Regions from separate parts of the Homo sapiens genome. Here region 2 is linked to region 1. A link means that fine-mapping ties the variant in region 1 to the expression of a gene that starts in the linked region. Tissue or cell type: whole blood. Region 1 holds a variant in brackets; the other region holds the start of a gene. All regions are shown on one strand. Distances are from middle to middle.

Evidence for each region.
Region 2: it holds the start of OSBPL11, and the variant in region 1 is fine-mapped to the expression of OSBPL11 in whole blood (TOPMed, PIP above 0.99).

Annotation. Positions count from the first base shown.
Region 1 is chr3:125,550,071-125,566,541 of GRCh38, forward strand. OSBPL11 (oxysterol binding protein like 11) reads right to left here. Exons shown (of 13, transcript NM_022776.5): 7 at 13,628-13,773; 8 at 10,309-10,449; 9 at 2,111-2,609. Among named protein-coding and RNA genes, the nearest start is that of OSBPL11, 37 kb to the right of the region's middle. The variant A/G (reference allele first, on the strand shown) is at 7,953.
Region 2 is chr3:125,586,728-125,603,198 of GRCh38, forward strand. It overlaps OSBPL11 (oxysterol binding protein like 11), which reads right to left and starts at 8,770. Exons shown (of 13, transcript NM_022776.5): 1 at 7,910-8,770. The coding sequence starts at 8,073. RefSeq lists enhancers at 7,298-7,357, 8,318-8,377 and a silencer at 8,478-8,887.

The DNA.
Region 1 (16,471 bases):
TAATAAAATATGAATGATTTCAGCTGGGTGTAGTAGCTCACAACTGTAATCCCAGAACTTTGGGAAGCTGGGGTGGGTGGATCACTTGAGCTCACAAGTTTGAGACCAGCTTGGGCAACATGGCAAAAATCTCATCTTTACAAAAAATACAAAAATTGGTTGGGCATGGTGGCGCACGCCTGTAATCCCAGCTACTGTGGAAGCTGGGGTGGGAGGATGGCCTGAGCCTGGGAGGCAGAGATTGCAGTGAGCCAAGATGGCCCCACTGCACTTCAACCTGGGCGACACAGCTAGACCGTGTCACACACACACACACACACACACACACACACACACAACAAACAAAAAAAAAAAAAGAGAGTACTTTCTAATGTTATAAAAGTTGTAATTAACTTGAAATATTATTTGGAAATTGGTAAGACATATTACAACAGAACTTAAAAATGAGGAAAACTGAAAAAGAGGATACTTTCTTCATAACGACTATAACACAATCTCAAAATATTAGATTGGCTTAATGATGCCATGCTTACACTGTAAGATGACATTCAGAGCATAGTGTTCTTTGCATAAGAGTTTTCCTTTAACATAAAAGTGGTATTTTTTTCCTATCATTATATTTTCATTAACTCTTCAATAATTTCTGTGGAGATTTTTGTTTTTGTTTCATATTCTTGGTCAAAAAACTCTGCATTTCCAAAAATAATTTTTTCATAATCTTCTGATGAAGTAGAATTAACTTTTATCAGCATATATTTTTAAATATTCTATGAATAGCACCTAAATATTCTATGAATAGCACCTCTGGCCTCCATCTCCTAAAGTGCTGAGATTACAGGCTAATGCCTGGAGGTGGAGGCCAAAGGATCACTTGAGCCCAGGAGTTCATGACCAGCCTGGGCAACATATTGAGACCCTGTCTCTAAAAATAAAAATTAAAAAAATTAGCCTAGCATGGTGGTGCATGCCTGTAGTCCTAGCTACTTGGGAGGCTGAGGCAGGAGGATGGCTTGAGCCGAGTAGGTCAAGGCTGCAGTTAGTTATGACCATGCCACTGCACTTCAGCCTGGGCAACAGAGCAAGACCCTGTTTCTAAAAAAAAAAAAAAAAAAAAATTAAATTAAATTAAATTAAAAAAAAGGATGGAAAATCTATTTCATAGAATATTATGCAGTCATTAAAATATGTTTTATCAATGACATGATAAAATGAATATATTTAATTTAAAAAGCAGGACTCAAAACTATATATATTATTAATTCTAATTTTATAAGGCTAAAAGTATGAACATACACACACAGAAAAAGTATAAAATATTAAATTTATATATATATGGATGCAGGCATTACAGAAGCTTTTATTTTCTGCTTTGTACTTTTCTAGTTTTCCAAATATTTGATAAGAAATATTTAAAATCGCCAGGCACGGTGGCTCATGCCTGTAATCCCATCACTTTGGGAGGCCGAGGTGGGTGGATCATCAGAGGTCAGGAGTTTGAGACCAGCCTAACCAACATGGTGAAACCCCCCATCTCTACTAACAATATAAAAATTAGCTGGGTGTGGTGGCATGGTGGCAGGCGCCATAATCCCAGCTACTCGTGAGTCTGAGGCAGGAGAATCGCTTGAACCTGGGAGGCGGAGTTTGCAGTGAGCGGAGATAGCACCATTGCACTCCAGCCTGGATGACAGAGCGAGACTCCATCTCAAAAAAAAGAAAAGAAAACAAACGAAAAGAAATATTTAAAATCAGAAAAAAATAATTTAAAAAGAGAATTTACATTAGTTCATAGATATACTCCTCCCATCCCCACAAGAAGCATTCTGGAACACTCTAGAAATTGGAGCGAAAAAGTAACATAATATTTTAAACTTAGAGTTAATATTTATCTGGGGTTCCTAAATTTAAGATTGTAGTTTGATATTAAAAATTATAAAACAGGCACTTGACCTTCACGTGCCTGCTTGGGTTTCTCCCAAGCGAACTTTCCTTTCTTTCCTGTTCTAAAGCCTTTTAAAGTAAACTTTCATTCCTGCTTGGAAAAAAAAATACATATATATATGTGTGTGTGTATATATATATATATATATAAAATAATTTTTCTACTTACCTTCTCCAACCATTGTCACGCCTATTGACATGCCTAAGAACTTGCTCTTAGTCCAGACATGCGCATTTACACACATCTTCCTCTCTGTACATTCTGCATAAAATCCTGAGACTGGAGGATGATGAGAAACCTGCTCAGCAACAAATCTGACTGTGTAACAGTCTGATCCCACCTGGGTCAAAGACTCCCCCGATAAAGGAGCATGATTTGTGACTCCCTGGGTGGAAGAACTGCTAAAAACACTGGATGCTACCTCGCTTTTTGGCATCTTCCAGGAACAGTGAAATGTTTCTCCAATGATAGGATTGTATGGTTTTTTAGCAATGGCTCCCTTACGGCCTTCATGAAATGAGGTAAGGTAGTACTCAACAAAGCGAATCATTCTGTCCTCAGCTGTGGCTCCATTAGTGATGGCTATAAATAGGTCTGGATGAGACATAAAGTCTGCATACATTTCCAGCAAGGAACGCTTCTCTAGGATAAATGTAGGAAGCACCACCTAAAACAACAATCAATGAAAGAGGGGAAATTTAATCCATGTGTAGCATATCTGTAGACAACTATTCTCTCTCTGAAAACATTTCATTCTAGATGGGTATTAAAAACAAAGTCACAAAGAAAAAGTATTCAGTCACATTAAAAAATAAGCATTCTTGGCCAGGCGCAGTGGCTCATGCCTATAATCACAGCACTTTGGGAGGCCAAGTTGGGAGGATTGTTTCAGCACAGGAGTTCGAAACCAGCTGAGGCAACATAGTGGAACCGTGTCTCTACAAAAGTTACAAAAATTAGCTGGGCATGGTGCCTTGTGCCTGTGGTCCCAGCTGCTCAGGAGGCTGAGGTGGGAGGATCACCTGGGAGGTCAAGGCTACAATGAGCCATGACTGCGCCACTGCACTTGTACCTGAGCAACAGAGTGAGACCCTGTCTTAACAACAACAACAAAAAAGCATTCTTAAAAGGACAGGCAAATCTGCCCAAGACTAAACATAAATTCAAGAGAGTCAGAAGAAACTTCAAAAAAATCCTCAAACTTCTAGACTGGATAAAAGTATCACCAGGGAAATGGTGTTAAAACTCAAAGTAAATGTTAGCCATGCCTTTGCTCCTTTCCTATGTTAAAATTAAATTGTAGATGAATGACCAAGACATGAGAAAAGTCAATAAATGTCATTCCCTGAGAACAGACTAAAGAGATCACAGACCGAAGCAAAAACTGCAACATATATTTAATCTTAAGCACAAGAGAACTATTTCCAATAAGAGAAATTTTTATACTTAAAACCAGGTAAGTGTAAGAAAGATAAATATTTTACTTAAAGCAGAGTTGGGAGAGGCACTGCAAAATGGTTTAAACGTCTGAGAAAGCAAAATCTGGCAATATTTTTCAAGAGCCCTAAGATGTTCTTACCCATTTAGCCTAGTACTTACATTCCAAGAATCTAGCCTTAGGAAATAAATAATTGAATGAAGGAAAAGCAATGTGAAAAAATAATTAGAACAACCTGCATTTTAAACTACGGTTCTAGCTAACTGAAGTAGGGAACTTTCATTTAATTGACTATTATAGTCATTTAAAAAGACGGTTTTGAAGATGATACAAATAATACAAAAGACAGTGGATGTTGCAGGTTCAGCTGGTGAATTGAACACATGCATCTTAATTTCACTTTCTGTCGAAATTCCACTGAAATTAAATTAACTTCATATAAAGACAAACCCAGAGATACCAGGAAAGTAGACAAAACACAACAAAATTTTGAGAGTTCCTAACTAGAAAGCTGAAACTTAGGCAGTAGGTTACAATATGCACAGATTCCTAAAAAGGCTCAGGAGCTGATCGCACTAGGTACCTCTGGATCTGGGGATTCACAGAAATGATAAAATAAAAATAACTGAGTAAAATCTGTATGGAAAGCAATTAGATGCCTAACTCAAACCCCCAACTCCACACTGTTAGTAACTACCCTCTTGGACCTCAAAGTCTAGAGGTTTAGCCTCTGGATAAACAAGGTGGTCTATTCTCTAGACTGGAGAATAGCAAGGAATTCTAAGAGAGTGGATACCAAGTGATACATAACAAGGGCATTTAATAACTCCATATAAACTAAACGTTAGCTATTAACACCCTCTCTCATGCAGCCTTCTTCTCCTTTTTAACTCCTTTTGGAGTCACCAAGTATGAGATGAAAAAATTTTTCTTCTGGGAAATTTGACTAAACCTAGAAGAAAAACCTAATGATACTGACACCAAGTCTCCCAACAAATGGCCCATCCAGATTATGGGACAATGAAAAACATAGGCGCCACCTACGTGTTAAAGCTTAAAATCAGATTTTAGTTTCCCTAAACTTAATTGTGAGCAGAAGATCTGATTTCTGAGAAAACCTCTAACTAGGAATATAAAGAACAAAATAAAGAAACAGATTTGGAGGAAACAGAAACCTCAAAGGAGGGGAAAAAACAAAAATAAAAAATAATATCTTCAGAGAATTAAGAAGATATTATATACATACAAGAATGCTTTTTAAAAAAATCAGAAAATTTAAAAACATGACAATAATTAAAAGTCAAAAGAAGAGTTAAAAGATAAAAGGCGAGGAAATCTCCCATAACACAGAAGACAGACAAAGAGAGAAAAAGAAAAGTATGAGAGAACAATAAAAGACCAGACCAGGAAGTTCAATGGCCATATAATAAGGATTTCAGAGAAAACAAACAAACAAACAAACAAAATAGAAGAAAGAAAAATCATTGTGATGGTTAATATTGAGTGTCAACTTGATTGGATTGAAGGATACAAAGTACTGTTCTTGGGTGCGTCTGAGGGTGTTGCCAAAGGGGATTAACATTTGAGTCAGTGGATTGGGAGAGGCAGACCTACCCTCAATCTGTGTGGGCACCATCTAATCAGCTGCTAGGATAAAAGCTAGCAGGGGAATATGGAAGGACTAGACTTGCTGAGTCTTCTGGCCTACATCTTTCTCCCCTGCTGGATGCTTCCTGCCCTTGAACATCGGACTCCAAGTTCTTCGCTTTTGGACTCTTGGACCTTCAACCACAGACTGAAAGCTGCACTGCTGGCTTCCCTACTTTTGAGGTTTGGGGACTCGGACTGGATTCCCTGCTCCTCAGCTTGCAGATGGCCTATTATGAGACCTTACCTTGTGACTGTATGAGTCAATATTCCTTAATAAACTCCCCTTTATATATACATCTATCCTCTTATTTCTGTCCTTCTAGGAACCCTAATACAATCATCAAAGAAATAATTCAAGAAAATTTCAGAGAACTCAAAAACATGAGTTGTCACACTGAAAAGGCCCACCAAGTGCCCAGATACAATGGATAAAAGAAACCTACATCAATGTCACAATACCAAGACATGATAAAGAGAAGATTCTAAACAATTTTGGAGAGAAGAACATACAAAACAAGTCACAAACAAAAGATCAGGAATCAGAATGACTTCAGTCTTTTCATTAGAACCCTGCAGCACGGAGATATTATCTTTTTTTTTTTGAGATGGAGTCTCGCTCTGTCACCCAGGCTGGAGTGCAGTGGCGTCATCTCAGCTCACTGCAACCTCCACCTCCCAGGTTCAAGTGATTCCTGTGCCTCAGCCTCCTGAATGGCTGGGATTACAGGCATGTGCCACCATGCCTGGCTAATTTTTGTACTTTTAGTAGAGGGGATTTTGCCATGTTGGCCAGGCTGGTCTCAAACTCCTGGCCTCAAGTGATCTGCCTGCTTTGGCCTCCCAAAGTGCTGGGATTACAGGCGTGAGCCACTGCACCTGGCCACAAGTAACAAATTCTATCTAAACCAGCAATGAAACACGAGGGCAACACAGACATTTCAGACACACATTTTCACATTCGCTTCTTACAAATCTTTCTGAGAAATTAATGGAGGATATATTCCAACAAAATGAGAGGCAACCAAGAAAGAAGAAACGGATACAGTAAACGGATTAGCCAAAGAGAATGCTAAAGGAAATACTGGTCCAGATTAGAGTGATGTGACTCAAGAGACAGACATACTGAAGACTGTCATCCACATGCTTCATGCTGCCATTGTATCATCTTTTCAAACCTCAGGATAAAATAGCCTAGTGAAACTGATCCCAAGTGTATCTGTATTTGGCTTGTGTTGACTATCTGCTGGTGAAGTTCTTAGTCTCCTCTCCATGTTCTGCTGTCTGGATTGGCTGAAGATGCTCATTTCCCCGAAAGAAGCCTTCTGACTTCAATCTATTCCTCAGAGTTGGAGGTAGGTCACAGTTTGCTTTGAAACTGAAAATACTGAGCAGCTCACTCCCCCAGCCCACATTCCTCCTGTAGCTGACTCACACCAAATGCTCTGGGATGTATATTTTACAGGACTCACAACTTTGCCTTATAATTTCACAAGAAAGGGCTCTTCTAAACTTTCTCAATAACTTATAAGAAGCTAAAGCCAGAGACTCAAATGTTTAACTTGTCTTTTTCTGGGAGCTGCTTTCTACAAATGGCAACACAGTCCTTTCCTTATGCTAAGCTTATGTTAGCTATTCATTTTTTCCTAAACATCATTATGGAGTACAAAAAAGCAGTAAAACTATAGCAAAAAGTAGAGGGATAATTAACACACAAGTCAAGTAAATTGTTTTATGGAGGAAAAAGTAGAGGACTATAAATTAGAGGGGAACTCAGAGATTCCAAGTTCAGGCAGTGTTCTACAACTTAATGTCAGAGGTAGATACATGGGTATTCATTTTATCTTTTTTCTTTGAATGTTTATATGTATACCATTCAGTCTTCTGTGTGTTTAACACATTTCATACACACAAAAATTAACTGAAAAAAGGAAGTAAAACAAAATTCCATATAAACTATGACAATGTGAAGAAAGATAAAAGTGAGAGCTCTGTTATGTTAGGGTAGTAAAATGATAGATTTTCTTTAGTTTTCTAAAATTTTGTGTTTATATAATTTCATAATATTATTTAAAAAGAAACAAAATGAACAGTAGGAAAATGCATATTACTTATTCACAACATGAAGGCTAGGACCATGGTTATCTTATTTGTTCCTGTCCCAAGACCTAGCACAGTGTCTGGAATATAACAGGGGCCCAGTAAATATTTGTTAATTAAGTGTTATTGTTAGATAAGAGGTAGCTGTGACTGCAGTTTAGTCACCAGGCTCTTTATTTTTATTTATTTGTTTATTTTTTTTGAGACAGAATCTAGCTCTGTCGCCCAGGCTAGAGTGCAGTGGCGCAACCTCAGCTTACTGTAACCTCTGCCTCCTGGGTTCAAGCGGTTCTCCTGCCTCAACCTCCTGAGCAGCTGAGATTACAGGCGTGCACCACCATGCTCGGCTAATTTGTTTTTAGTAGAGACGGGGTTTCACCATGTTGGCCAGGCTGGTCTCCAACTCCTGACTTCAAGTGATCCACCCGCCTCAGCTTCCCAAAGTGTTGGAATTATAGGTGTGAGCCATGGCACCCAGCCACCAGGCTCTTTAATATTGCCTGAAAAGTATCATTCCATTAAATGTTGTATAGATGTTCTTAATTTGTGGTTGGTTAATGTTAATGTAATATATGTGTAACACATACAACTTTCTTTTTTTTTTTTTTTTTTTTTTTTGAGACAGGGTCTCGCTCCGTTGACCAGGCTGGCAGTGGCACAATCTTGGCTCACTGCAACCTCCACTTCCCAGGTTCAAGCAATTCTTGTATCTCAGCCACATGGTAGCTGGGACTGCAGTCGTGCACCACCATGCCCAGCTAATTTTTGTATTTTTTGGTACAGACAGGGTTTCGCCATGTTGGCTAGGCTGGTCTCGAACTCTTG[A/G]GCTCATGTAATCCACCTGCCTTGGCCTCCTAAAGTGCTGCGATTACAGGCATGAGCCACCACACCCAGCCACATACAACTTTTTAATCAACAAGGTACAAATGTAGAGAAAGTATAGTATATGCACTTATTCATGCCATGAGAGAACTTCTACCATGTGGATTACTATCACAGCACACTTTTTTCAAATGCTCTTATGCCTCATAAACCTCAATGCTGCTCTTGTGCCTTATAAATGCAAATCTACTCAGGGACTGCAAACACCATGCTAACTAATACCAAACAACCCCTTCAGAAGACTATTCATTTTTAACCAATTTCACAACTATGAGGTCTTTTCTGAACCATTAATATGAAAATATTTCTAGAACAGAAATGATTCCCAGTTGAAATACTGAAGCTATATAAATAATGAAAGCTTTATGGGTTTCTTTATTAATTCCTAAAATGTCTGCTTCTTATGCTTTCTATTTAAGTTATATTTTCAGATGAACAGTTCGTTGGAAACAATGTTTTAAATCTACCTTCAATGGCATCAAAAAAATCTCCAATTGACATCTACCTCCTAAAGTCAATTTTGAAATTCCATACTAATGTAAAATTGTTTCATCAGTAATTCAAAGTAAATAATCCTACAGTAATAAATATTTGACATATATAGGTTTTGAACTTGATTGGCTTTTTAAATTAATGTCATGGATTAATTGTTAAGACAAATTAAGGCACACTAGTTAAACTGGGAACAGAGAAAACTGGCCTAAAATTAAAAACTACAGATTAGTGCTTCTCAAACTTTAATGTATATATGAATCGTCAGGGATCTTATTAAAATGCAGATTCTGGTCCACTAAGTCTGGGACTGGGGCCTGAGATTCTGCATTCCTAACAAGTTTCCAGGTGATGGTGATGCTACTGGTCTTCAGATCACACTTAAAGAAGCAAAGCTTTTGGCCAGGAATCTGCAAACTGTAGTCTTTGGGTTAAATCTGGCCTCCTGTTTTAGTAAATGAAGTTTTGTTGGAATACAGCCATGCCCAATCCAGTATATTGTCTATGGCTGTTTTTATACTACAAAGGCAGAGTTGAATAGCTACAACAGAGACCTATGTCCACATAGCTGCAAATATTTACTATCTGGCCCTTTACAGAAAAAGTCTGCAGACTCCTGTTATAGATAATACCCCAAATGTATGATCTGCATGTGGGAAGTAAGTGGAAGTGTCAATGCTTTTCATAGTTCTGTAGGATTACGTAATTTTCTCTACATTTTCCAGTATAGTATACCAATGGACTCTTTAATTTTGTTCTGAAACTCAAAGACAATTGGTATTACTTGCCAGACAACTTCCTGCTGCACAAGAAAGCCAGAAAGCCTTTTTTTTTAGTGATGGAGTCTCGTTCTGTTGCCCAGACTGGAGCGCAGTGGCACAATCTCAGCTCACTGCAACCTCCACCACCCAGGATCAAGCGATCCTCCCACCTCAGCTTCCCAAGTAGCTGGACTACAGGCCACCATGCCCGGCTAATTTTTGTATTTTTAGTAGAGACGGGGTTTCACCACATTGGCCAGGCTGGTCCCAAACTCCTGACCTCAAGTGATCCGCCCACCTCAGCCATCTCCTGAGACAGGGTTTTGCCACGTTGGCCAGGCTGGTCTTGAACTCCTGACCTAAAGTGATCTGCCCACCTCAGCCTCCTGAGTTGGGGTTTCACCACGTTGGTCTTGAACTTCTGACCTCAATTGATCCACCTGTCTCAGCCTCCTGAGACGGGTTTCACCTCGGCCTCCCGAGGAGAGTGGATCATTTGAGATCAGGAGTTCAAGGCCAGCTTGATTATAGGCATGAGCCACTGTGCCTGGCCAAGAAAGCCATTTTTTATGAAAATAAAAAATACTGATCAGGAGACTAAAAAAAAAAAATCATAAAAAATAAAAATCACAAAAAATAAAAAGACCGGCCAGGTGCAATGGCTCACGCCTGTAATCCCAGCTCTTTGGGAGGCCGAGGTGGGAGGATCACGAGGTCAGGAGCTCGAGACCCGCCTGGCCAACATGGTGAAACCCCATCTCTACCAAAAATACAAAAAATTAGCTGGGCATGGTGGTGGGCACCTGTAATCCCAGCTACCCAGGAGGCTGAGGCAAGAGAATTGCCTGAACCCAGGAAGTGGAGGTTGCAGTGAGCCGAGATCGCACCATTGCACTCCAGCCTGGGCAACAAGAGCAAAACTCCATCTCAAAAAAAATTAAAATTAAAATTTAAAAAGTAAATAAATAAAAAGTCCTGACATAAACATGAACAATTACTGGTACAGCCCTTAACAATCTCCATAGCCAGCTTATGCCATTACTTACTCTTGTTAAATCCATGCCCAGCTTAAGCTGTGACAAGAGATGTAGGATGACACTACGTTGTTCTTCTACAGCTCCCAGGTCATCCTCTTTGTGGTCACATGTATCCTCTATCTCATCATCTGCATTTATTTCTTCAGGCTCCTTGATGGAAAACAAAGCAAAAGTCTAGTATTTTAACTACCTATTCATATCCATTGAGAACAAAACAATAAATATCAGACTTGAAGACATTTGTATTTGACCTAAGTGAATCTGAGTATGGGCAAAAATCTTTCAGAAATACAACTATTTGTCCATGGTATAAATTTCCTTCAGAGAGCCCCATTATTGCTGATGTTGAACATATTGCAGTTTTGCCATATATATCACATAAGAACTATTTTTCTTTTTTGGGGGGAAAATAGAATTTTTCAAAAAGAGTGAAGAATGTCTCCTCCAGCCTCCAGAGTCGCTGGGATTACAGGCATGCACCACTGCATCCAGCTCATTTTTGTATTTTTAGTAGAGATGGAGTTTCACCATGTTGGCCAGGCTGGTCTCAAGCTCCTGACCTCGAGCGATCCACCCGCTTTGGCCTCTCAAAGTGCTGGGATTACAGGTGCCCACCACCATGCCCGGTCCCTTAACTGCTTTTTTCTTTTTGAAACAGGGTCTTGCTCTGTTGCCTGGGCTGGAGTGCAGTGGTGTTAGCTCACTACAACCTCCACCTCCTGGGTTCAAGCGATTCTCCTGCCTCACCCTCCCAAGTAGCTGGGACTACAGGCATACACCACCACACCTGGCTAATTTTTGTGTTTTTAGTAGAGATGAGGTTTAGCCATGTTGGCCAGGCTGGTCTCAAATTCCTGACCTCAAGTGATCCACTTGCCTTGGCCTCCCAAAGTGCTGGGATTATAGGCATGAGCCACCACACCCGGCCCCTTAATTGTTTTTTATACACATTTATAATCACATAACCTCCTCTCTTGTAAAATTTACATGTTTATAATTATACTAAACCTTTTTTCTCAAAAGACTCTTTCTTCCTAATTTTCCTTTGTGAATGACAATACAATTTTATCTAACCACTGAGAGTCAAAAACTTGGGACTTGACTTGATCCAAACCTATATCCAGTCAGTCACAAATCCAATTGATTTTTCATTTGAAATGCACATAATCTATTCATTTGCCTTCATGTCTACTTCCATATCCTTCTATTCACATTTTATTCCAAGTCGTATCATGTACCAATCTTCTTAAACATAGTACATTCTTACCCATGATCATGACGCTATTGTCATTAAGACTAAACCCTTCTGCATTATTTTTATGTTATTTGGAGGCACAATTTACACTGCATTCTATGGAGCAGTGCTCCTGGAAGCTTCATTCCACAGAGTACAACATGAATAGTGCCATTCAGAGTTGTAAAATCCAAAAATACTGTGATCATTTCCCATAAGCCAGGTGTTCTACTAAATTCATTTTATCCTCATAAGGATCTTACAAGGTAGTATATTATCCCTACCTTACCGATGAGGAAGTTGAAGCTAAGAGTGGTTAATTAATTGGTTCACATGTCAGTGAATGGCATATCCTGGGTTCAAAATTACCAGGCAAGCTTTCTCTTCAATAAACACACATGCCTTAGGATCCTTGCTAGTGTTAGTCCTTCATCTTGAGATTCCCATTCTCTTCCTCCTCCCTTCAAATCCTGTCTCCTTTCAAAGCCCAATTCCAATCCCACTTTCTCCCCAAAGCATTTCTCATGTACCCGACTCAATATGTCTTCTTCCTTTCTCTGAATGCCCCTATCCCAATAGCCTACATGGTATCAATTAAGAAAAAAATATATTGCTTTATATTATCATCTCATTTTAGTGTATATGTTGTGACTCCAAGCAGATTATAAGTCTCTTCAGTGAAAAACCTGTATCTTCTAATTTTTGCTTCTCCTCTAATTCTTAGCATTGTACTTGCCATATACTAAGCTTAATAAATACTTACTAACTGCTGTTTCTACAAATAAGCCAGTCAAACAGCTACAGAGAAATAAGCATTTTATACATTATTGTTTTTTCTTCTCCCCTGCCAACCCTTGCCTGCAATGCCTGTCTTATCAAGCCAAAACTTTTGCCAACTTTGGAAGTCCCTGTGCCATATATTTCTTTAAAGAAGTAATTTACGAATATATAAAGTACCATAAACTATGCATTACTCTTGACTCAGTAATGCTACTTGGTAATATAACTTAAAGAGATAACCTAAGAAAAAAAATAGGAGAAGGCCGGGTGCGGTAGCTCACACCTGTAATCCCAGCATTTTGGGAGGCTGAGGTGGGTAGATCACCTGAGGTCCAGAGTTCGAGACCAGCCTGACCAACATGGAGAAACCCCTTCTCTACTAAAAATACAAAATTAGCTGGGCATGGTGGCGCATGCCTGTAATCCCAGCTACTAGGGAGGTTGAGGCAGGAGAATCACTGGAACCCCGGAGGCGGAGGTTGCGGTGAGCTGAGATTGTGCCATTGCACTCCAGCCTGGGCAATAAGAGCGAAACTCCATCTCAAAAAAAAAGGAGAAAAAGTTGGAAACAAGATAATAAAGTGTTATTTATAATTAAAAAAAAAACCCTCCAAACAATCTAGATATTCAACAATAGGGACATTAACTCAATAGACTATTTCAAGCTTTAATTATACAGACCAGTACAACATAGGAAAATGCTTATCAAGTAAAAATAGCTTAAAATAACAGATGTGAACACAAAAGGCAAAAATATCAATATGATTTGTTACAGTGGTAGATTATGAATAGAATAAAACACTCTTCAGCTTCTAAGAAATGTGAAATGAATAATAGTTTATAAAAATATAAACCCTAAGATTATGTGCTATTTTAAGTAGGGTAATACTTGAAACAACTGGCTTGGTAAAGTGCTTACTATGAAAAAGACTCAACTTTTAAGATTATAAACTTAATAATAAATAATGTTAAGATAATAGGTTAAGAAACATAAGAGACAAACATTGTGCAAATCTCATTAGATAAGTTATTTTCTAGAAAAAGAAAAACATAAATTTCAATTTTTAAAATATATTTTTATCAAGCAAAAGTAAACTAAAAGTTAAAAGGGCATATAATTTAACCTGGAAAATTCAACAAGTTTAATATAAGAGACCTCTTCAAAAACAATGCAGTTTAAAATGTTTTAGAATCTTCAAGAGTGTTGCTCAGGTGTTAAGTTGATGTGCATGAGCTGACAATGAAAAGAAAACTGACCCTTTTTCAGTGATACCTAATTTTTCACATCAAAATCATATTTTTATATTACCTTACCCTCGCTAATAGTCCAGATTCTGCAACAGGCTGCTCTTCTGGGACTGCCACCGGCTTACTCTGATCAGTTGCAAAGGGCTGGTCAGCTCCATTTTTATAGTGGTTTGATAAAGATATCTTTGGTTCTAACCACTCGATTGTCGTTCCTGATGGAGTAAGAGAAAACTTTCGCTGAAACTTGCTCATAATCTAGAAAGTTCGGCAGATGTGGATTTTAACAATTTTGTTTTGAGCCTACAAGCCTAAAAGCAATTAAACCTGTTAAGAGACCCTGCAAGACAGCCACTTATATCTCATTAGCATGAGCACCATGATTGGGTATTTTACAACAGAGCAACTTGCAACTTGATATCAGATACTATTTAAAAGAAATCAACCCTGAATAGGACTGAATTTACTTCTTGGACAAGTCTGTGAATCACGAAGTATATTCCCAACCTAACAGTTGATTTGTTGTCTTTGTCCCTCTACTGATTAAAAAATATGCAATTAGGCTTTAGAGAGGCACAGCTACAGGAGGAGTCTGGGACTGTGAAACAGTAAGATTTGTTTCAATTTGGGATCGAGTCTTACTCTCAGCAACAATTGTCTAACCAATCAAAATAATCCCCCGGATCTAATTTAAGAATTGCAAATACATGTCCTTTTTCGAAATCATTTTTTAAAAAGCCCCATACAACTTAAACTGAAAGACTCTTCTACTGAATAAATAATAACTGACCCAGTGAAGACAGTGGTCACATTTGGAGACCTGTCATCTTCTCGGTTAATGATTCAAATGTCTCTTGTTACCCTCGACTAGTTTAACAAAGTGGATTCTATGCCTAATCAATAATGGAAAATGTTCCATTTGATTTCAGTTGCTGATCTAGGTTTCACAGAAGCTTGGTTATAGAGTGCTATAATAAGGGATGCTCAGACTACTACAGCAGAAATGTAGGAGTAGGAAATGTATTATCCTTTTTTTTTTTTTTTGAGACAGAGTCTTGCTCTATTGCCCATGCTGGAGTGCAGTGGTGCAATCTCAGCTCACTGCAACCTCCACCTCCCAGGTTCAAGTGATTATCCTGCCTCAGCCTCCCGGGTAGCTGGGACTACAGGTGCTCACCACCATGCCTGGCTAATTTTTGTATTTTTGGTAGAGACGGAGTTTCACCATGTTGGCCAGGCTGGTCTTGAACTCCTGACCTCAGGTGATCTGCCTGACTCCGCATCCCAAAGTGCTGGGATTACAGGCGTGAGCCACCATGCCCGGCCACAAATGAAATTTAGTATTTAATTAATCAAGTATTTATTGAGCATCTAATATCTAGTGCTGTGTTACTTGACATACTTTTAAAAAATTAAGTAAGCCTGGGCAACACAGACAGACTCCATCTCTACAAAAACTAAAAGGAATTAGCCAGCCATGGTGGCATGTGCCTGTAGTCCTAGCTACTTGGGGGGCTAAAGCAGGAGAATAGCATGAGCCTGGGAGGTTGAGCTGCAGTGAGCCATGATGGTGCCACTGCACTCCCGCCTGGGCAACAGAGTGAGAAGAAATATAAAATAAAAAATATATAATATATTGTCTTAAAAATAAGCAAATAATTAAGTAGTATAAACTGGAAACAAACTGTTTCATTTGACTGAGAATTATGATTACCAACACTAGAATTAACCCAAATTTCATAGCTAAGCCTAACTCATCCAATGTTCAACACAGGGATATAGTTAAGTAAACCAAAATACACTTGTCTCCTCAAAGGAATATAAATACTAAGCAAATTTATAAATAGCATATGATTGGAAAACATTTTTGATGTAAAGTGAAAAAAGATACAAACGTATATTTTCCAATAACAACAGGGCAAAAGAAACAAAAACTAAGAAGAAAAAAGAGAAAACCTGGGATGGGGAGTATACTAATATATCAACAGTGGTGGTTTCTGGTTGGTAGGACAATGCATATTTTTTGTTTCTTCTTTTGACTCTACAGTATTTTCTATAATGAGTATGTTGCTTTGTAAGAAGAGAAAATTTATATTGAACTACTTACAATTCCTACAAGTCATGAATTCACGTTCACAACTCACAATTTAGACTCTTCTATCACTTTGGAATGCCCTTTCCTCTACCTCTCACTCCTAAACTATGAATGCCCTTTCCTCTACCTCTCACTCCTAAACTATGAATGCCCTTTCCTCTACCTCTCACTCCTAAACTAATCAGTCTTTGCAGCTTCTCTGTGCCTTTCTCAGAACTCTTTCTACCAGTCATTCAGCTATTCTCCCACAGTTTGTTCCTTTTGGTAGTAGCACCCTACACGTTATTATTATTATTTTTGAGATGGAGTCTCACTCTTGTCACCCAGGCTGGAGCGCAGTGGCACGATCTGGGCTCACTGCACCCTCCGCCTCCTGGGTTCAAGCGATTCTCCTGCCTCAGCTTCCTGAGTAGCTGGGATTACAGGCGCCTGCCACCATGCCCAGCTAATTTTTGTACTTTTAGTAGAGATGGGGTTTCACCATGTTGGCCAGGCTGGTCTCAAACTCCTGACCTTAGGTGACCCGCCTGCCTCAGCTGCCCAAAGTGCTGAGATTACAGGTGTGAGCCACCGTGCCTGGCCCCTACACATTATTTTATACTTATTATTTACATATTTCTTCCCTAAGTGGACTATGAATTTTTTAAGAGGAACATACATAACTGATTGGCCTTTCTCAATAGTGCCCTAACCTGCAACTACAATTGCCACTAAAAACAGTTTGTTGGCCGGAATTGTTGAATTTAGGCACACATGAGGATGAGGTCCATCCTATATCCATCTGAGTAAGGGAAACTGTCTCCTGAGCAGAGACTCTA
Region 2 (16,471 bases), 37 kb after region 1:
GCTGGTCTCGAACTCCTGACCTCGTGATCCGCCTGCCTCGGCTTCCCAAAGTGCTGGGATTATAGGCGTGAGCCACCGTGCCCGGCAATATACTTATTTCTCAACCTTTCTTTATCAGACTTAAGATAGATAAAAGTTTTTAAAATTAAGCTACCTTTTAAACAGTTTCAAATCCTTTCAACTCAAAACAATTACTCAATACCTACTAAAGCACAGCACTCTGAAAAACCATTGAAAAGCATAAGAAAATCAAAAAGGCAATAACTAATAACTCTCCATCTCAAATCTATAATCTAATCTAAGAGAAATATATCTCCTTGAAGAAAAAGGCAGTAACATGGGTTCCTGCTACTGGAAAAGACACACAATGGGACTACATTTGCAGCTGCCATACAAATAAAAAAGGCATTAAACAAATACAGAGGATTCAGTAGTGAGTGAGAAGGCTGAAATGACTAGATTTGATGACTGATTAGATGTGAAGTGAGACAGAAAGAATGAAAGTGAGAGAGAAAGGACAAGAGCAACACTCAGATTTCCAGCTGGAACAACTGGGTGGATAACTAATGCCTTCACTGAGATAGGGATCGCAGAGAAATTTTGGATTTGTTCCAACTTAAGATGTTAAATTTAATGAACCTGCAGGACTATACAGGGAGATATCCAGTAAGGCAGCATGATTAGGGCTTGGTAGTCATCAGCATATAAGCATATAACTGGTATTTGAAGTTACAGCAGTAAATAAGGTCACTCAGGAAGTATTACGAAATGGCAAGAGATGGGCAGGGTCTAAGAGAGATCTCTAAGGAAAAGTTTTAAGGGCAAGGGGAATACAGAGAAGAAATCAGGAACAACTGAGTAGTGGGAAGAAAACTAGGAGTATGGAAAGACAGAAACCAGAGAAAGTGTTTCAAGATAAGTCTGTGGTCAAGAATATTCAGTGGGCAGGTGCCTTCACTCACACCTGTAATCCCAGCACTTTGGGAGGATCACTTGAGCCAGGAGTTTGAGACCAGCCTGGGCATCACAGTGAGATCCTGTCTCTACAAAAAAAATTAAAAATTAGCCAGGCAGGGTGGCACACACCTGTAATCCCAGCTACTCAGGACACTGAGATGGGAGGATTGCTTGAGCCCAGGAAGTGGAGGCTGCAGGGAGCTGCAATCGTGCCATTGCACTCCAGCCTGGGAAACAGAGCAAGACTCTGTCTCAGGCCAGGCACAGTGGCTCATGCCTATAATCCCAGCACTTTGGGAGGCTGAGGTGGGTGGATCACTTGAGGTCAGGAGTTCAAAACCAGCCTAGCCAACATGGTAAAACCCTATCTCTACTAAAAATACAAAAATTAGCTGGGCGTGGTGGTGCATGCCTGTAGTCCCAGCTACTTGGGAGGCTGAGGCAGGAGAATTGCTTGAAACTGGGAGGCGGAGGTTTCACTGAGCCAAGATCCTGCCACTGTACTCCAGGCTGGGCGTCAGAGTAAGACCCTGTCTCAAAAAAAAAAAAAAAAAAAAAGAGAAGTTCAGTGCTACTGATAAAGTAAGATATGACAAAGACTGAGAAGACTCATTAGACTTAAAACCCAGAGATAACAGTTTAATGGAATGATGAGGGCAGTCAGCTGGAAGTAACATCAGAGGTTGACGATAATGTCAAGAGGTTCTCCAGCTTGTAGACAACTGAGCTATGGGATTTCTCAGGCTCCACAGTCATATGAGCCAATTCCTCATAATCTCTCTCTATATATATCTACCTATTGGTTCTATTTTCCTGGAAAAGCCAAATAGCGATACCTTAAGGTATTTAACTACAGGCAGGAATCCAAGTTGTAGTCAGTAAATATGAGGTACCAGGCAAGTCACATGTCAAAATCCATACTTTCAACTAGGCAAAAAGTATCCTCCCAAAAGGCTTAGCACTTTGGTCCATTCTCTGGATAAGAAATAGCATGAAGCGGGGAGTGGCTTGCTTAGCTGAGGAAAAGGCTAATGACATTAAGAGATATTCCTCGCAACAGCTAGTGTGTAGCCTGGGATATAATGTTTATTTGCTGAATGAATTAAGCAATGGGAAGAAAGAAACAGAATTTTTCTATGAAGCCATGAGGCAATTCTCAGTAACCTGCCCACCTCCTCCCCAAAAAATTCAACTCGCAGACTGTATACTCAAAATCGCAAACAAAATAAAGTCTAACTGTATTTTAATCTATGACAAAAAGTATAAAGTCAAGAGAGGGGTCCTCCCTCCTGCCAAGAGTCTTAAAAATGTTAGCACTCTTTGGCCCTAGAATTTCACTTTTAGGTATCCCATCTATGACAAATGATTAGAAATGTAGACAAAGCCGGGTGCGGTGGCTCACGCCTGTAATCCCAGTACTTTAAGAGGCCTAGGCAGGCAGATCGCCTGAGGTCAGGAGTTCGAAATCAGCCTGGCCAACATGGTGGAACCCCGTCTCTACCAAAAATATAAGAATTAGCCGGGTGGCACCTGCCTGTACCCAGCTACTCGGGAGACTGAGGCACAAGAATCGCTTGAACCCAGGAGGCAGAGGTTGTGGTGAGCCAAGATTGCACCATTGTGCTCTAGCCTGGGCAACAAGAGTGAAACTCCATCTCAAAAAAAAAAAAAAAAAACAAAACAGAAAAGATATGTAGTGCAAAAATGTAAGGAAACTAAGAAATCACAGCACATTATTAATAAACCAACTCTTGCTCCTCAAGACTTGGTATATTTTTAACTAGATTTTGGAATAATATTTTATAGTTTCCAGTTACATGCCTACAATTATCTTTCTCTTGTTTTTACCAGCATCTATAGCAGATGTCAGATACAGAAAACAAAAACTAGAGTGTAGAAATATGTATCAATTTTCCTTTAACCCCTGCAGAGGAAAAAAAAAAAAAAAGCAGACATTTATGACTTTTTCTTCAAATCAACTCAGAAGAAGAGGTAAAACCTCTAAGACCATGAACATTCATTTATATTTAGGCCAATCTCATTTTCCCATCCGCGAACAGGCACTTTTCCTTATAATAGTATTGACAGTGGAAGAAACCACAAAATTATTGTGGTCTGACCACAAAAATTATTTCTATACTACACATTTGCAGACTTTTACACATTTACTGAAAAGTATAGCTGTTTGCTAATGAGGAAAATAGATTTATCTGTTAATATGATTAGCCAGTGAGGAGCTCAAAATTTTAAAAAAAAGCAGGCCATCAAACACCCTGGTTTGTCTTTCAGTTCCTCTTTTGAATAGTTCTCTTCTGCCCATTTTAATAAGCAGGTGGCATATTTGCAGATTTGTGAATTTCTCTACAAGCTGACATGAAGAATACAAAAATAATGAAAACATGCATATTTTATAAAGTGTGAATATTCACTATGAAAAAGGAAGGAAAGACCCAGAACTGGGAAATCTATCTTCTCTGTAAATGGTAAAGAAAGCTCACATCATATGAATATAAATTACTCTGGAAACAAGAAAATACAAGGCTAATCTAATAAATTAAGTTCTTAAGTTTAATTTTTCAAAAGGGCCAGGCACGGTGGCTCACGCCTGTAATCCTAGTACTTCAGGAGGCCGAAGTGGGTGGATCACTTGAGGTCAGGAGTTTGAGACCAGCCTGGCCAACATGGTGAAACCTCATCTCTACTAAAAATACAAAAATCAGCCGGGTGTGGTGGCAAGTGCCTGTGGTCCCAGCTACTTGGGAAGCTGAGGCAGGAGAATCGCTTGGACTTGAACCTGGGAGGCAGAGGTTGCAGTGAGCTAAGATCTGCCACCGCACTCCAGCCTGCACAAGAGGACCAGACTCTGTCTCAAAAAAAAAATTTTTTTTTTCAAAAGGTCATCATGAGATTGTTTTGTAAATGCCACTGATGCCCTTCCTTTTCCTGATTATTTTGATGATCCTCCTAAAATAAGCCTTAGAATTCATTCTTTCGTTGTTTTGGGTGTGCACATTAATTTGGCATTAATAAAAGAGTGCTTCAGACATAGTAGAGACTCAAAAATATTTGCTACATAAGTTAGAACATGAGTAAACCATAAAACCAACCATGTACCAAACTAGTTATTATCAATAATTATTCATTCCTTTTAGAGAGTTTATCTACTTTTAATACCTCTATGTAAATATCTATCTAGAAATAAAAGTTCTCCCACTTACTAGCTATGTAACCTTAGCTACATGCAATATATAACTTCATGTACTATATTGCCTAAGTCTATATTGTCATTTAGACTTAGGTTTTCTTCAACTGCAAAACAGGAATAATAATGCTGTATCTTCCTCCAGAGTTGGGAGGATTAAATGTGATAACAGATGTGAAAACATTCTGGATAATGTAAAGACAATTATCTACATTTCCAATACTCCATATCTCTGAGGACTGGCTAGATAAGACACTTAAACATTCTGGCAACTTTAGCTGGACATACCTAAAACCAGATACATAATTTGACTCCCCAAGTCCGTTTTCCCCTCTAGTCTTTACAATCTTGAGTCTATTATATTAACTGCCTAGGCATTTTCTGGCATAAATCCCAATAATCCCCACCTGCTGGTATTCTCACACCCTTGTGTGGGACTTGTTTCTGAAGAACAGTGAAAAGTGATGTGAATTCACCTCAGTGCTTAGGTTACAAAAGACTGTTAACTTCTCTCCAGGTAGCACTCTCTAGTCCTCTTACCTCCTCATTCTCAAGAAACAAGCTGCCAAGTTGTAAGATGCTCTGTGAAGAAGCCCATGTGGCCAGTGAACAAAGGAGGTCTCTGGCCATCAGTTCATGAGGAACTGAGTTTTTTGTCCAATGGGCCAAAAGGAACTGAATTGCACCAAGAGTCTCATGAATCAGCTAGGAAATGAATCCTTCCCAGTTCAGTCTTAAGAAAGACTCAGAGCCAGAAGACCCAGCTAAGCTGCACTGAGATTCCTGACCCAAAGACACTATGAAATAATAAATGCTGCTAATATATTAAATTTGGGGGTAATTTGTAATGCAGTAGTAGATACACTATCTCACACTGTATTTCAAAATAAATTCCAGATAGATTAAAAAGTTAAATATGAGCCTGGGCAACATCGCAAGATCCTGCCTCTAGAAAAAAATTTTAAAATTAGCTGGGCATGGTGGTGTACACCTGTAGTCCCAGCTATTCCAGAAGCTGAATAGGAGGATCACTTGAGCCTAGCAGTTCAAGGCTGCAGTGAGCTATGATGGAGACACCACACTCAACCCTGGGAGACAGAGAGAGACCTTGTCTCAAAAAAAAAAGTTAAATTGTAAAACTACCAAATTATTTTAAAACTTCATGAAAACAACTATTTATTTAACTATTTTTGAGACAGGGTCTTGCTCTGTCACCCAGGCTTGAGTGCAGTGGCACAATCACAGCTCACTGGAGCCTAGAACTCAAGCAATCCTTCCACCTCAGCCTCCTGAGTAGGCATGCCACCATGCCTGGCTAATTTTTTAATTTTTTGTAGAGATGGGGTCTCTCTATGTTGCCCAGGCTAGTCTCAAACTGCTGGGCTCAAGTAATGCTCCCACCTCAGCGCCCCAAAGTGCTAAGGATCAACACTTTGGGTGAGCTACAGTGCCAGCCAAAACCAAGTACTTATAAAAGTTACTTTTTATAATTAGAAATGGATGGAAAAGAGGAATAAGAGGTCTGACTTAAAAGTTTTCTGTGTGTCAAAAAAAATGAAATTAAATCTGAGGACTAGTGAAATATTTGCAGAAAGTATAGCAAAGAATTTATACAAAATTAAAATATATTGCATGTCATCACATGTTTATTAAATAAAGAACTAATATAAATTTCTCTGGAATTATAGTCAAGAAATCAGTAAAAGATAGCATTTCCAGAGAAGGAAACCGAGTGGCTGGGAAAGTATGTAAGGGAAATGTTTCATTGTATATACTCATCCCTTTACCTATTGAAAAGAAGAAAAATCAACAAAATATTTTTAAAGGAATATTGGTATTTAATGTTGACATTTTAATAAGAGATATCAAGCATATTAAAAAGAAAAATATTAAGACCTAACAGGAAATGTATAAAAAACACATATGTAGATGTTTCACAAAAGAAAAAAAAATGATCATAAAGAAAAATGAACTAAAAATGCATCAGAAACCTAAACATAAGCACTAAAACAAAACTCCTAGACAAACACATAAGTGTAAATCTTTGTCATCTTAAACTTCACAATGTTTTTTTAGATGTGACACAAAACTATAACAAGAGAAGAAAAAACTCATTAGACTTCATGAAAATTAAAAACCATTGTGCTGCAAACAATATCATCAAGAAAGTTGTAAACCAAAAATAACATTCGAAGGCACCTCACAACCAACTTAATAGACTCCCGGCTCTCTCCAGACCCAAATGTGAATGCCAGGGCCGCGGCGGCGCCCCACCCACAGCCCCATAGCAGGTCAGGACGAAGCGCCACGGACAGGGGACCCGCGGCCCCTGCCACAGGTCACACACATACAAAAAAATCATGCTGATTCCAAAAGCGGGCCTAGACCTCTCAAACTAACTGAATATATCTTCTTATCCTACAGTCACTTACCAATAAAAAGTTATCTTCTGGCCAGGCGCGGTGGCTCAAGCCTGTAATCCCGGCACTTTGGGAAGCAGAGGAGGGCTGATCACTTGAGGTCAGGAGTTCGAGACCAGCCTGGCCAACATGGTGAAACCCCATCTCTACTAAAAATACAAAAATTAGCCAGGTGTGGTGGCGCACGCCTGTAATCCCAGCTACTCGGGAGGCTGAGACACGAGAATCGCTTGAACCCAGGAGGTGGAGGTGGTAGTGAGCCGAGATCGCGCCACCACACTCCAGCCTGGGTGACAGAGCCAGACTCTGCCTCAAAAAAAAAAAAAAAATTATAATCTTCTATACTTCACTTCTATATGTTAATATAGTCATGCATATTTCATACATATGAATATTATTCATGATAAATGTATATCCCTCACAAAATCTTGGCTTTAATCCCTTCCAAGTTTCACAAAAATTTCACAAGCACAAATAAGCACAAAGGCTAAAAAGGACTACAGTTAGGCACATAGGAGTCAATCAAAACTTAAGAATTCATCCCTTTAGTTCCAATACGATGGGATGTGCTGGTTTGTTTCATTCATTCTTAAGGTTCTGGATAGTTCTTTCTCCCTACACTTCATATATGAAAAAACAAAAACAAAACTTGTTGCCTCTCCAGGACTCTCCTCCTGTTCCTTAAGTTGTTCATTCATATTAGTGAAAATTAACAAATATAGACTTTCTCATCAACACAGAGAGCATTGAAGTGGCCTGAGCAACGCAAACTGAACATCTCCAGGCTCAGGTTTAGTTTATCAGAGGCATTAGGATCTCTACCTTTGTCCTTGCATTCCAATTACTTATGTACATTCCCCTTTCCAAGTCACAAATACCTTCAGGGCAAGAATCTTTTCTGATTCTGGAGAAGCTCTGGACAAGTAAGTTTTGAGCACCAGTATTTGCTACCCTCTCGAGAAAGCTGAGTTAAACAGTTCCTGCCCTCGCAGTCTATCAGAGAAAGCTGGCTTGTAAATAAATTGCAACATAGGCAAAAGCAGAAGTGAGTACAGAATTAAATCTGAGGAAGCATTAACTCTCTGACTGTAGAGGAAGTTCAGGGATACATTTCTGTGTTCCTCAAAAGGCCTTCCATAAATACCTGTTGAATGAACAAATGAATGGATTAAATCTTTTAGGCGAGGTCCCAGATCCAAACGAGATGTATCAGTAGCTTCTGGAAGCCAGTGAAAAAACTTTTATCTTTCAACAATTGCGGGATGCAGCCTCCAGGGCATATTCACCCCTACCTCCACCTCGGGAAATAATTTTGGAGAAAGGAGCATACCTGTACTGCCAGCCTTTTGCACTGCCACCGCGGCTGCTGCTGCTGCTACTGATTCCACCTCCACAGCTGCTGTTCTTGTTCGGGGTCACCGCTGTGGCCTGGCCCTCCAGCTTTCCTTCGCTCTCCGAGACTTTCATTGTGGACACTGGTTCACCCCCCTGCATCTTAACGCCAAAGTCCACTTGCCCTTCTTGAGCGGGAGAGAACAATTCTGTAGTTCTGTAGGTGACTTTTTTTTTTTAAGATTTGATCTGAATATGATACCGGTTGCTAAATCACACGGCGGCTGGGGCGGGACTGTCAAATGGTCCAGAAAAGGAAGATACACATTCCCACAGAAGTTAAACTTTTGAGAGGGCAGGGGAAGCAACGAGGACAGATATCCTTCACATGTATCTCTCTCCTTTCCGGCAAAAGCAAGGAGGAAAAAGCATCCGGCGAGAAGACTTAAGTGACATACTCAAAAGAGAAGGAGTGTGGGGAGGTCGCAGATTCTGTAGCCAAGACGGCTGGGAAAAGGACGGAGCGCCACGGACAGGGGACCCGCGGCCTAACCTCGGGGCTGACCCGCCGCGCTCCCTCGTCTCCTCCGCAGGTCCTCAGGCAGTGCGTCCAGTCAAGCCCGCTCGGCAGTTCCCGCCGCAGCCCCCGAGATACAGCCAGGGCCGGCGCGCGCAGCCGGGGAGGAGGGTCGGGGAATGAGGCCGCCGGGGGCGGGACGCCGGCTCCCGGGGCCGCCTCTCCCAGGGCCAGAGGCGAGCCACTCGGGACAACTTCCTCTTATGCCCCTGGCCCGGGCCCTCGACTGGGTTCCCAGGAGCCGGTGAGTCTCTCGCGCTATCTCCAGACCCAAGCGCGAATGCCAGGGCCGCGGCCGCCGCCCCACCCACAGCCCCACAGCCCCACAGCCCCACAGCGGGTCAGCCACCCCCCGCCCCCTGCTCCCTTCCCGCCTTCCCTTCCGGAGTAGCGTGAGCTCACTTCCCTCACAGCCGAAGCGTCTGGCGCCATCTTGGGTCAGGGCGGCGGGTCCCTGAAGGAGGCGGAGGCTCTGGGAGCTGGTAGCTGGGCGACTGGCTGATGGGCGAGGGAGGGCGAGGGAGGGCGCCGCAACGGAACGAGGAACCCGGACAGTGAAGGAGGAAGAAACAAAGGAGCCAGCAGCACTAGAGAGTTCCCTTCTGGTGTGTGAGTGCCCGCCTTCCTTTTTTTTTTTTTTTTTTTTGAGACGGAGTCTCGCTCTGTCGCCCAGGCTGGAGTGCAGTGGCGCGATCTCGGCTCACTGCAAGCTCCGCCTCCCGGATTCACGCCATTCTCCTGCCTCAGCCTCCCAAGTAGCTGGGACTACAGGCACCCGCCACTACGCCCGGCTAGTTTTTTGTATTTTTAGTAGAGACGGGGTTTCACCGTTTTAGCCGGGATGGTCTCGATCTCCTGACCTCGTGATCCGCCCGCCTCGGCCTCCCAAAGTGCTGGGATTACAGGCGTGAGCCACCGCGCCCGGCCGAGTGCCCGCCTTCCTAACCACGTCCTAGCCTTCCATTTGAGGGGCCGTTCCAGGCATTTTAGGAAGAAAGCTTACAAAAATAAGAAAGTACAAGAACGAAGCAAACATCTGTACGTTTTAGTTACTTGGGGTGGGGGGGGGGCAAGCATGACATTGGAGTAAAGCCAATCATTATTATAAATTAAAAAGAAGCTGTCATGGAAATTAGAGATCTCAGAACAGAGCTAGGTACTCTTCCAGACCCCAGACAAATCTTTCACCTTGTTTAGGCCTTGGTTTTGGATTTGTAAAACAAGAGTGCATGGGTAGATTTCTAAAGTCTCTCCTAATTGCTAATTTTAGTTTATAATAACATGACTTGAGGCTGGGCACAGTGGCTCACGCCTGTAATCCCAGCACTTTGGGAGGCCGAGGTGGGCGGATCACTTGAGGTCAGGAGTTCGAGACCAGCCTGGCCAACATGGTGAAACCCATTCTCAACTAAAAATACAAAAATTAACCGGGCATGGTGGTGCGTGCCCGTAATCCCAGCTACTTAAGAGGCTGAGACAGAAGAATCACTTGAGCCTGGGAGGCGGACGTTGCAGTGAGCCTGAGGAAGGAGAGAGACCCTCTCATATTGTTTTATACTCAGTACCTGTTTTAAGAAAAAAAGAAACAGCAAGGAAGTAAAACCAAAGACAGGCAGCCCAGCGCCAGGCCGGAAACCAGGCCTGGGCCTGCCTGGCCTAAACTCAGTAGTTAAAAATCAACTCATAACTTAGAAACCGATGTTATTCATGGATTCCAGACATTGTGCAGCAGAACATTGTGAAACTCCCTGCCCTGTTCTGTTTCTCTCTGACCACCGGTACATGCAGCCCCTGTCATGTACCGCTTGTTTGCTCAAATCAATCATGACCCTTTCATGTGAAATCTTTAGTGTCGTGAGCCCTTAAAAGGGACAGAAATTGTGCACTTGGGGAGCTCAGATTTTGAGGCAGTAGCTTGCTGATGCTCCCAGCTGGATAAAGCCCTTCCTTCTACAACTCGGTGTCTGAGAGGTTTTGTCTGCGGCTCATCCTACTAAAAGCTGAGATTGCGCCACTGCACTCCAGCCTGGACAACAAGAGCAAGACTCAGTCTCAACGAAAGAAAGAAAAAAACAAAAACCGGCCGGGCATGGTGGCTCACTCCTGTAATCCCAGCACTTGGGGAGGCTGAGGTGGGCAGATCACGAGGTTAGGAGATCGAGACCATCCTGGCTAACACGGTGAAACCCCATCTCTACTAAAAATACAAAAAATTAGCCGGGTGTGGTGGCGGGCGCCTGTGGTCCCAGTTACTCGGGAGGCTGAGGCAGGAGAATGGCATGAACCTGGGAGGCGGAGCTTGCAGTGAGCCGAGATTATGCCACTGCAGTCCAGCCCAGGCAACAGAGCAAGACTCTGTCTCAAAAAAAAAAAAGTAAATAAATAAACCTACCGTACAACCCAGCAATCCCACTACTGAGTATCTATCTAAAGGGAAAGAAATCAACATATCAAAAGGATACCTGCTCTCACATGTTTACTGAAGGACTATCACAATAGCATAAATATGGAACCAGCCTGTGTCCATGAACAGATGAATGGGTAAAGAATTTGTGGTATGTAGGCCAGGCACGGTGGTTCACGCCTGTAATCCCAGCACTTTGGGCAGCTGAGGCTGGTGGATCACCTGAGGTCAGGAGTTCGAGACCAGCCTGGCCAACAGGGCGAAACCCCATCTCTATTAAAAATACAAAAATTAGCTGGGCATGGTGGCGCACACCTGTAATCCCAGCTACTCTGGAGGCTGAGGCGGGAGAATTGCTTGAACCTGGGAGGCGGAGGTTGCAGTAAGCTGAGATCGTACCACTCCAGCCTGGGTGACAGAGTGAGACTCCATCTCAAAAAAAAAAAAAAAACAAAGACAAATAATGGAAAGCCAGGTGTGGTCATGCACACCTGTAGTCCCAGCTACTTGGGAAGCTGAGATGGGGGGAATCACTTATGCCCAGGAGTTTGAGGGTAGCCTGGGCAACATAGAAGACCTGTCTCTTTAAATAAATACATAAATATAAAAGTGGAAAAAAGCTTGTGGGATAAAAATATAAAAAACATGATTCTAAGTGAAAGATGCAAGACGCAAAAATGTCACATACTGTATGCTTCCATTTATGTGAAATGTCCAGAATAGGCAAATCCATCGAGATAGAAAGTAGATGAGTGGTTGCTAGGGATAGGAGAAAGGAGGAATGGGAAATGACTGCTAATGAGTATGGGGTTTTCTGGGGGTGGGGGTAATAAAAATGTTCTAAAATTCGATAATAGTGATGGTTGTACAATCTTGTAAGTATATGAAAACTCGATTGTATACTTTAAATGGGTGAATTTATGGTGGATGAATTATATTGTGATAATGCTATTTTTTAAAAAACAAATTCTCTAGCTGCATGGAGAATTAATTTTAGTGGGAGAAAAAGAGGAAGCGGGGCGACTAGGTAGGAGGATATTATAGGGAATGAGGGCAGAGATCATAGCGGCTTGGACTAGAGTGGTGGCAGTGGGGATAGAGAGAAGTAAATGGATCCAAGCTGTGTCTGGGATGGGGCTACAGTACTGCAAATGGACTGGATTTGCAATAGTGAAACTACCTTTGCAAAATTATAACTAAGGAAATTATGACAGTGAAAGAAATCAGACCTGACTCCATCTTGCTTCTAGCCTTTAAGCTGTCCTTGTTCATTCCTGGACACAGGCCAAACTAACTTTAGGAAGGAATTCAGTTCATGGTTTTACTCTGAAACAAAATTGATAATCGCCCTTTCCCGAAAAGACCCCTCTTTTAGCCTGGGGACCAGTCTGCCTTTGCAGGACTAACAAATTAGCTATAAGATTAGAAATTACTGGCCAGGTGTGGTGGCTCACTTCTGTAATCCCAGCACTTTGGGAGGCTGAGGCGGGCGGGTCACCTGAGGTCGCGAGTTCAAGACCAGCCTGACCAACATGGTGAAACCCTGTCTCTACTAAAAATACAAAATTATCCAGGTGTGGTGGCTCATGCCTGTAATCCCAGCTACTCGGGAGGCTGAGGCAGGAGAATCGCTTGGACCCGGGAGAGGCCAAGGAGGGCGGATCATTTGAGCTCAGGAGTTTGAGACCACACTGGGCAACTGGCAAAACTCGTCTCTAGTAAAAAAACAAAAATGAGCTGAGTGTGGTGGCACATGCCTGCAGTCCCAGCTACTTGGGAGGCTGAGGTGGGAGGACTGCTTGAGCCCGGGAGGTTGAGGCTGCAGTGAACTGAGATCACACCAGTGTATTTCAGTCTGGATGACAGAACAAGACTCTGTCTCAAAAAAAAAAAAAAAAATACAGTCTAGAGTACTCAGGTTTGAGTGTCAGCACATTTGGTGTAAGAAACTCAGCAAGATAAACTAAATTATTATCAGAAGGTTATAATGCTTGTGGAGTCATGGCCATGGGAGTTGGTAGGATAGATGTTTTGTTTTGCTTTGTTTTAAAGCCAAAACTTTTTACCAAAATGTTTTACAATAGGATCTGAGTTTGACTGTTCCATTCAGCATCCAAAGAGAGAGGAGGACATATTGTTTGAATAAGGAAGGTAAAGAAATGTACTTTTTTGAAAGCCATCAAAGAAGGATGTGTACTTCATCTCTGTGCCTTCCCTACCAGTCTAGCTGGGTAAGAGATGAGGGTGCCCTGCCCATGGAGAGAAGCTGCGTATGCATAGTGGTCAAGATCATGGTCTCTTCTATCAGACTGACACGCAGATTCCACTCCCTGTGACCTTAGGCAAGTTACCTAACCTCTTTGTGCCTGTTTCATCACCTATAAAATAGGAGTAACTGTGTTACTCCCCAAATTTCTACAATGAAGGCCTAACTTCTATGCAATGGTATTTGGAGATAGGGCCTTTGGGAGACACTTACGTTTTGATGAGGTCCTAATGATTGGATTAGTGCCCTTGTAAGAAGAGACACCAGAAAGCTAGCATGTACCATGCCCCAGCCCTCACCACCCCTGCCATGTGAGGGCACTTGGAGAAGACAGCTACCTGCAACCTAGGAAAAGAGCCGCCATCAGAAACTGACCATGCTGGTATCTTGACCTTGGACTATCAGCCGCCAGAACTGTGAAAAAATAAATTGCTGTTGTTTAAGCCACCTAGTCTATGGTATTTTGCTATGGCAGCCAAGCCAGTCTCTCTCTTTGAGGGGTTGTCAGCATTAAATGAAACGACTCATGTCATTTAAGGCACTTAGACTCTGGTCTGACGCAGGATGAGCTAAGTGTTCAGCAACTGTTAGCCATTGTTTAGAAGGGTAGGGCTACCTGCTAAGTAAAACGAATGTTGGTGTTTGGTGAGGGCACCCTTCTGCTAGGGACATCTCTGAAGACACATCAAACAACATATTTCTGAAGACATTCAACATATTTCTGTGGGAGAATGCCAGCTTTGTCTCCCAAATGCAATGGAGTTTTCAAGTTAGGAATTCTAATCAAAAGAGACCCATCAGAGTATGTACAATAAATGTAGAATTCTAAGAACATTACCTGAAATCACCCAGTTTGTGGGTGTCAGTGTGAAAATGTAGATACCTAAGGCCATGTCTGCTTCAGTGTCATCTCCTCCTAGAGACCTTCCCTGACCACTCTATACAGAGTAGCAGTTCCTACCCATTACACTCTATCCCTTTACTGTGCTTTAGTTTTCTTCATAGCACTTGACATTTTTTTTTTTTTTTTTTTTTTTTTTTTCTGAGAGGGAGTCTCCTCTGTTGCCCAGGCTGGAGTGTGATGGCATGATCTTGCCTCACTGCAACCTCTGCCTCCTGGGTTCAAGCCATTCTCCTGCCTCAGCCTCCCAAGTAGCTGGGATTACAGGCACCCGCCACCATGCCCGGCTAATTTTTGTATTTTTAGTAGAGGCGAGGTTTTGCCATGCTGGCCAGGCTGGTCTCGAACTCCTGACCTCAGGTGATCCACCCGCCTTGGCTTCCCAAAGGGCTGGGATTACAGGCCTGAGCCACTGCGCCTGGCCAACATTATATGCTTTGTTATGCATTGTCTGTCTCCTTACTAGAATGTAAGCTCTGTGAAGAAAGACTTGGTTCTTTTTTTTCCCCACTACAGTGTCCCCAATACTTGACCATTGCTTGACACATTTGTTGAATGAGTGGATGAATTTATTACAGTGGTTAAGAACATGAACTTTGGCACAAGCCTTCAAATCCTGGCTCTGCCACTTAGTGCACGTGATCCTGGGGAGGTTACTTGCCTTGGTAAGCCTCAGTTTTTTCATCTGTAAAATGGAAAAATAGGATGAAATAAACGTGTAGAAGGCCAGGCATGATGGCTCACACCTGTAATCCCAGCACTTTGGGAGGCCAAGGCAGGTAATTGTTTGAGCCTAGAAATTCAAGATCAGACTTGACAACATGGTGAAACCCCATCTCTACAAAATAATACAAAAATTATGGGGCCAGGAGTGGTGGCTCACACCTGTAATCCCAGCACTTTGAGAGGCCGAGAAGGGAGGATCACTTGAAGTCAGGAGTTTGAGACCAGCCTGGCCAACATGGTGAAACTCCATCTCTACTACAAATACAAAAACTAGCCGGGCATGGTGGTATGCACCTGTAGTCCCAGCTACTCGGGAGGCTGAGGCATGAGAATTGCTTCAACCCAGGAGAAGGAGGTTGCAGTGAGCTGAGATCGCACCACTGCACTCCAGCCTGGGTGACAGAGCGAAACTCCATCTCAAAAAAAAAAAAAAAAATTAGCTGGGTGAGGTGGCATGTGCCTGTAGTCCCAGCTACTAGGTAAGCTGAGGAGGGAGGATTGCTTGAGTCAGAGGTTGCAGTGAGCCAAGACTGTGCCATTGCACTTTAGCTAACCTGGGTGACAGAGCGAGACCCTGTCTCAAAAAAAAAAAAAAAAAAAAAAAAAAAAAAAAAAAAAAGAGTGCCTGATGTCTAGTGCACTAGAACAAATGCTGCCTGTTTTTATTTTCTCTCTCTAACCCTGACATGCAAGAAAGGGAAGTATGATTAGTTTCCTTGAAGCACAAGAACCCGCAGCTGGAATGAATGGGAGGATAGGCCACAGAGAAACTCGGGGCAGGGTAGCAGGGAGCAGGGGTGCGGGAAACAGTGCTAATCCCATGAGAGGAGGGCAACACAGGGAGGAATGCAGCCAGGAAAAAAGTTCCCACTGAGAATAAGGTTGTGAACCCAGAATTTCTTAAAAAAAGAAAACGAGACCGGGCGTTGCGGTTCACACCTGTAATCCCAGCACTTTGGGAGGCCAAGGTGAGTGGATCACCTGAGGTCCAGAGTTCGAGACCAGCCTGACGAACATGGGGAAACCCCCGTCTCTACTAAAAATACAAAATTAGCCAGGCGTGGTGGCGCATGCCTGTAATCCCAGCCACTCAGGAGGCTGGGGCAGAAGAATCGCTTGAACCCAGGAGGCGGAGGTTGCAGTGAGCCAAGATTGCACCATTGCATTTCAGCCTGGGCAACAAGAGCAAAACTCCGTCTCAAAAGAAAAAAAAAAAAAAAAAGAAAGAAAAGGAAGAAAGACATTCTGAGAAGACAAAGTGTTCACATTGATAATAGGTTTTACTACTTTGCTGAAACAGAGTTTCAATTAATCAAGAGATCCTCTACCTCCCACCACACTCGCCTGCAGTTTAGGCAGAAATCCTTTTGTGATTTCCCACTCTGATGGAGTGATTCAGCTAAAGGGCTCCAAGAGAGCAGCATTTCTCTTCAAACACTCCCCTGCCAAGCTCAAAGCTTGTAGTGGGAGTGAAAGAAATAGACACAGTTGGTGTTTTTATTTGAGAGGAGGAATGAAGGATGGGAAAGGAGAAAAAGAGTCTATTTTATTCCGATTTTGATAAAATGAAACTTCCCTCCCATTGTTTGCTTCTCTCCACAACTTTCCCTTGAATCCCTATTGAACTTAAAAGTATTTCACTGGAGCCTTTAAAACTGTATTATAAAATGAGAACGCATTTATTTT